Linked DNA regions of Homo sapiens. The protein of the gene in region 2 purifies or fractionates together with the protein of the main gene of each other region. This does not show direct contact. Each region holds a gene or a part of one and is shown on either strand. Other genes may lie near its edges. The genes, in order: CLCN3 and MOGAT2.

What was found.
Region 1: the proteins of MOGAT2 (region 2) and CLCN3 purify together in Homo sapiens (affinity purification with mass spectrometry; one large-scale study listed by BioGRID and IntAct). This does not show direct contact.

What each region holds. Positions count from the first base shown.
Region 1 is NC_000004.12:169,693,343-169,697,169, reverse strand, and holds part of CLCN3 (H(+)/Cl(-) exchange transporter 3), read right to left. Parts: intron 1,559-3,827; coding exon 1,478-1,558; intron 1-1,477.
Region 2 is NC_000011.10:75,730,366-75,733,500, reverse strand, and holds the end of MOGAT2 (2-acylglycerol O-acyltransferase 2), read right to left. Parts: exon of another isoform or gene 2,799-3,135; intron 2,370-2,798; coding exon 2,215-2,369; 3' UTR 548-2,214; downstream 1-547.

The DNA.
Region 1 (3,827 bases), on a different chromosome or scaffold from region 2:
AAGAAAAATTAATGCTATAATTTTATAAGATGTTTCTGATATATTATAACTTGAATGGTAAATATCCTAGCTCTAAATTTTGCTGTAGTTAGAATTTACATGTAATGGATTTTACTGTAATAAGAAAAATTGATGTTATTATTATTTTTGGAGATGGTGATCATCATTACAAATTGACAGTATCAATTGATCATAAATGTCTAATAAATACTAATAGAATACCTAGTGCTGTTTTATATTCAAAATGAGTTTCACATTCAATTCAATCATGGTAGTTAAAAATAAATGTACCATCACCAACTCCTGTTAACTTATAATGCATTTAATTTGCCTCTTCTACATTAAAAAAAAAAAAAGAATACAAACAACTAAAAGAAAAAAGTACATTTAAAAACATCTTGAACTAAAAGAGTTAAATTCATAGAAGTAGAGAGTAGAATAGGGGTTACCAGAGGCTAGGGGTTGGGGAGGTGAACAGGGAAAGGGGAGACATTAGTCAACGGGTATGAACTTACAGAGGAGGAATAAGTTCTGGTGTTCTATTGCACAGTAAGATGACCACAGTTAATAATATGTATTATATATTTCAAAATAGCTAAAAGAGGATTTTAAATGTTCTCACCACCACAAGGACATAATAAATATTTGAGGGATTTGCTAATCACTCTGATTTGATTATTCCGCAATGTATACATGTATAGACACATCACATTATACCCCATAAACAAAAACAATTATTATTTGTCAAAAAAAATTAAAAAAAAATTCCTGGTTACATTTTTATGTAAAAAGAAAAGTCTTAAACACCTATTAAGAAAACAAAAACAAAATAATCCACTGAAGTCACTAAAATTATTTTCTTTAACATCACTAACTGTATCAGAAATAATCACATGGGAAAAACTTTAAAACACAACATAGGAATTGATTAAAATTTTTTAAACAAAAACTACTTGGGAGGCTGAGGCAGGAGAATCACTTGAACCCTGGAGGCGGAGGTTGCAGTGAGCCAAGATCGCGCCATTGCACTCCAGCCTGGGCAACAAGAGTGAAACTCCGTCTCAAAAACAAAAACAAAACAAAACAAAACAAAAAAACCCCACAAAAAAACAGCCTGGCCAACATGGTGAAATTCCATCTCTACTAAAAATACAGAATTTAGCCAATGGAAATAGATTGTTTCACATGTCCTCTATTAAGTCAAATTCACATCTTCTTACTTTTAAATATGTCAACAAAGTTAGATTTTAAATAATTACTAACATTCATACATTAATAAATTTTTAAAAAGTTTCCTCCAGGTATGGAGCATGAATAACATTTACTTTTTATTAAGAATGAGTGGAAAACAACTTTAGAAAAATAAATTTGAAAACAAAGTCTCTACCTATTACATCACCTACAAAACTGAAATGTGTGAAATATATTTGTAATGGTAATTATATATAATTTTAATTGTTGTATTCTTTTCACCTACCTCTTCCAGGCTAAAAAGAACTCCTCCAATTGGTGCACCAAAAGCTACAGAAACCCCTGCAGCTGAGGCAGCTGATAGCACCTAGAAAGAGGATATGGCTTATTTCATAATTTCATAGAAATTCAAACATACCAAATAAAAATTCTTCATGTTACTTGAATTTTCCAAATGGATTTTCTGAATTTAACTTGCATGTTTCCTTGCTCCCTAAGCAAAGGGTAACTATTCATTTCTTCTATTAAGATTTGTTTCTTTCTCCTGGCTTTAATTGAAAGGTCAGTCATGCATTTACCATTCAGTTAAAAAAAATTTTTGCCAGATATACTAATGTGAATAGGGTGTAAAGAGGAGGAGGCAATGAATATAGACAATTTTCAAGACGTATGTTTGTGTAGGTAAGAGGGGAGGGCAGTAACTGGGATGGGGAGCTATTTTTAAATAGGATATCATTTCTTCAAATTTTAGAGCTAACTGCTCCACCATAAATACTCTATTCCAAATCGTAGCAAGATATGCAGGGAACCGAAGACCTTGTAAGATTCCCTATATTTTCACTACCCTATGCATTCTGAAATACTGCTAAAATACTATCAATCTAGAGAGCCTCATTCTGAAAGCACACACAACAGCTCCTCAAGTTACAGTCTCACCAACCAACACCTCTACAAAAAAATTAAAGGAAAAGAAAAATCCAAGGACACTCTTCCGTGTCCTCTCTCCAGCTCCCCAGTCTATCAGTTGGTAATGGTCTACTTCCCACCTGTAAGCCAACTATACCTAACTATACCTATAATTTCACTAGGGTTTTATTTGTAATTATTTTTCTAAGAGTCTGTATTCCTTTATTTTTTTTGAGACAGAGTTTCTCTCTTGTTTCTCAGGCTGGAGTGCAATGGCGTCGTCTCAGCTCACTGCAACCTCCACCTCCTGGGTTCAAGTGATTCTCCTGCCTCAGCCTCCCGAGTAGCTGGGATTACAGGCGCCTGCCACCACGCCCGGCTAATTTTTGTATTTTTAGTAGAGACGGGGTTTCACCATGTTGGCAACACTGGTCTCGAATTCCTGACCTTAGGTGATCTGCCTGCCTCAACCTACCAAAATGCTGGGATTATAGGCGTGAGCCACCGCGCCCAGCCAAGTGTCTGTATTACTTTCACTACTTTAATACAGCAAATATCCAAAGCTACCTAAAGTATTTCTTCAAATGGTCAATTGTTACATTTCCAGAAGAGAAATTATAAATAATAAAAATTAAGCTGTAAATGGTTAAGATCATGAACTCCATAGTCAGGCTGCTGTGTTGAAATCATGGCTCTGCTACTTACTAGCTGTATGGCTATGGGTAGATAACCTAACCTATATGTGCCTCAGTTTTCTCTAAAATGGAAACGTGATAATATTACTTAGCTCTTAAGGACTGAGTAAATATATACAGAGTGCTTTAGAACAGTGCCTGGCACCAGTAAATACTTTATAAAAGTTTGGTGAATTAAAAGTAAATAAATATTTGTTTTAATCAAATTGTTGGCATTAAAATGTAGACTCTGCTTATTTGGGGAGGAAAGGGAGCAAATTTAGCTTCTTTTTTTTTTCCTCCACTAAGAGGAAAGCAAACATATTTATTTGAATGTCCTGATCCTGAATTTACAACCAAACTAACACCTAGGTATCTATAACTCATATACATGTTTTAATCCATTTCATACGTATCTAAGAAGCATTTAATTTAAAAATATCAACGCTCTCCCCTCTTGTCTACACAAAACTATGGGACCTTAATGCTTTCAACTAACCGTGAATTCTTGCCATTTATATATACACTAAGGTGACAGAATAACAACGTATTAAACATTAACTAATCACTACAGTATGAACATTAAAATTTAGGTAAACTTAATTTCTCAAACATCTAATAAATTACATTTTTTGAACTTAGAATAAGTAAAAGTCTTACCAAAAAATATAAAGGTACAACAGAAAGTAATGGAATTGAATTGAGGAGGCAAATGCTCTAGCTTCATCTTAGCCACTAACTTGCTACGCTACAGGATGGTTTTGAGTTTGTTTTGAACACACACAAATATATACCCACATAGTCGTAAGGGCAGTAATGTAAGTAGGTAAGACCACAGACTTTGAAGTCAAAGAAAAATGAATTTTAACCTACGTTCCACCACTTACTAGGTATGTAGTCTCGGGCAAGTTAGTTAGCTGTTTTCAGCCCTAGTTTACTAATCACTAAATGAGGATAACAGGGCCATATTACTAAATTACTGTGAAATTAAGTATTAAAATCCAAGTAAAGTATCTGCCACAGTACCAGATACACAGAAAGTAATCAATAATGCTA
Region 2 (3,135 bases):
ATGTGGGTGGGATTGAGAGGAAGCACACATGTGAGAATTCATTTACTCAACCAACTCCCACTCACTGGGGATGCTGAGGTCCTGTGCTGGCGGTGGAGCTGGGTTGAATGGGGCTGAAGCCACCATGGATAAGGGCCTAAGGGGGTTCCCAGTCCACTGGGAGACAGAGAAGTACACTCGCCTATGAATGACTATGACCCTTTCATCCCTGAAGACAGTGCAAAAGAGGGCTGATTCAGGGCAAAGGGCAGAGTTTGAGGGTAGAAGTGTAGGATGAGGTTTGACAAAGGAGGCGACCTTTGGAAGTGAGTGACGCTGACCAGACTGAGAAGAAAGAGTGTTCCAGAAGGAAGGGAACGGTGCGCCCCTAAATAAGCCAGTGCAAGAGCAGAGTATATTCAGAGAGCAGCGAAGGGGGCGGGAGTGACAGGTGGCAAGGGGAGAGGGTCCAGAGGTGAGGCTGGTGGGGTCTAGAGGGCAGATGATAAAGGCCTTGAATGCCAGGCTGAGGAGGAGTTTAGGCATTATCCCGAGGCATTGGACACCATTTCAAGAGTTCAGTTTTATTTGTGAGACAGGATGCAGGTCCTGTTTGTGGGTAGGCTGGAGGGAGTGCACTAGAGGCAGGGGCATTGGCGCAGCATTTACCTGGACAGCAACACCTCCTCCCCAGGGTGCTAAGGGCTGTGGTGGAGGAACAGAAAGTCTGGAGAAGCCAGAGGAAACCCCTGTCAACCAGAGGCACTGGGGAAGACTTCTTTGCACAGATAAAATCAGTATTGTAGGATGAGTAGGAATTATCCAGACAAGGGGGAGATAATGGGGAGGATATGGCATTCCATGGCATCCAACATCATGGGCAAAAACTCAGAGGTGAGACAATATAGCTGAGACAAAGAAATGCAAATGGTTCCGAGTGATGGGAGCACGGAGTAAGGGAGGAAGAGAGATGAGGATGGACAGGCTGGGCCAGATGCTGGAGAGTGGCAAACGGCAGGCTGAGAAGCTCGGGCCTGGAAGTGGACATGTTCCGTCTTCCGTTGACCCCTCCAGATCCACTCTGCCTGTCTTTGCCATTCTCCCTTTCCCAGGAGGCCTACATGCCTGGACTGCAGCCACAGGCCCTCCTTCCCTCCAGCTTCTAGTTGGGCTCAGGCAGTGGGGAACTTGGCAGCAGACTGAATGGAGGAAGGTGAAGTGGGAATGCTTGCTCCTGGCTCCTCCCTTGCAGGGTCACCAGACCTGTTCGTGCCCCTTGACCAGCAATGGCCCCCACACATGAGTCTTCCTGGTTCAGGAACTGCTGCTTCCATTCATCCTTCCAGGCCTCAGGGTGGAAACAGTGCACACACCTCAAAAAATGGTTCCTTTTTAAACCCTCCTCAAATTATCCTCTGGTTCCTGCTGGATCCTGATCCTCTGGATTCAGACTGGTCCAAACCCTATCCTAGGAGCAATGGAGGGTCATGGAAGGATGCTGAGTAGGAAATGGCGCGGTCAGCTTTGTGTTTTAGACAGCTCGCTGTGGCTGTGCATGAGGGATCAACAGGGGAGAGCGAGAGGGAGATAGGGCAGCGATGCAAAGCTGAGCTGGGATCCTCGGGACACACAGTGGTGGTACCATGGTCACACAGGGAATTCCAGGGTGTGTGTGCCTGGGGTGGAGAGTGCTTGTGCTTCAGGCTTTTAGTTTTTAAGTTTTGGTGGATTGTTTGCAAAGACGGCAGTAAGAATCCCTGCATGTGTCCACACCCTTTTGTAATATGACATTGCTGCTCCTCCCATCCAGAGGGGGATCCTATTCCTTACTCCTTGAATCTGCTGGGTTGTGACTTGCTTCGACCAACAGAATGCAGTAGAAGAGATGCTTGTGAGGTGTGCAGCCTAGGACTCGAGTCCGTGCAGCTTTGGCTCTCATCTTTTGGAATCAGCCACCAATGAATGTTAACAGACCACTCAATATAGAGAGGGGCCCAGTGTCCATGTGCAAAGAGAGGCCCAGCCCCTCTAGCAGCCCTCACTGTCCTAGCCCCAGCTGACCCCTTGGTCTGGTCTCCTCTTCTGCATTGCCTGCTCTGACTTACAGCCTGATATGGGTTGGATTTGCAGGAGTCTGGGAAGGCTCTGCAGATATGTTCAACAAACACCTCCAGGAAGTCTTCTCAGCACAGCACCTCCTGCTGGGCTCCCTAATGTTGGCCCTGCCCTTTGGGCTCAGCAGAACTCCAAGTGCTGGTCAGCAGGGATGTTGAACTTAAGTTTGTGGGCCTCGAAGAGGTTGCACAGCTCTTTGATATAACGCTGGTGCAGCTGGTTCACCTCCTCCTCCGAGGGATGCAGCGTCTTCTGTACCTCGATGGGCTTCCCCACTGCAAGGCATAGAGGTGTGCAGTGGCCTAGGGTAGGCAAGGGACCCTCGGTGCAGGTGCCCACCCCCATGGTTCATCCCTGCAGAAAAGTGCTCTTACTCCATTCCTTCCAACCCTAATGAATTTTAAGATATTAGGGCAACTCCAAGATTCTGATATAATAACAACGGCTGGATTTCTTTCTTCCTTTTCTTTTCTTTTCTTTTTTTTTTTTTTTGAGGTAGAGTCTCGCTCTGTAGCCCAGGCTGGAGTGCAGTGGCGCAATCTCAGCTCACTGCAACCTCTGCCTCCTGCGTCCTGGTTCAAGCAATTCTCCTGCCTCAGCCTTCCGAGTAGCTGGGATTACAGGCATGCGCCACCATGCCCAGCTAATTTTTGTATTTTTAGTAGAGATGGGGTTTCACCACATTGGACAGGCTGGTCTTGAATTCCTGACCTTGTGATCTGCCCGTCTCGACCTCCCAAAGTGCTGGGATTACAAGTGTGAGCCACCACGCCCAGCCAGTGGCTGGATTTCAATGTGTCAGGCAATGCACTAGGTGCTTTACATGAAATACTCCCTTTTATCCTATGGGTATAAAAACCTGTCATTCCTATTTGACAGATGAGTCAATGAGGCTCAGAGAGGTTGCCTGACTTGTTCAAGGTCACATAGCCAGGAAGAACCACTGCCAGGTTTTAGACCCCAGGGATGTGCCCTTTACCTTCAGGCTATATGATTTGGGGAGTCCAAGATGCCATGAATGGAAGCGGCTATATTTCTAAG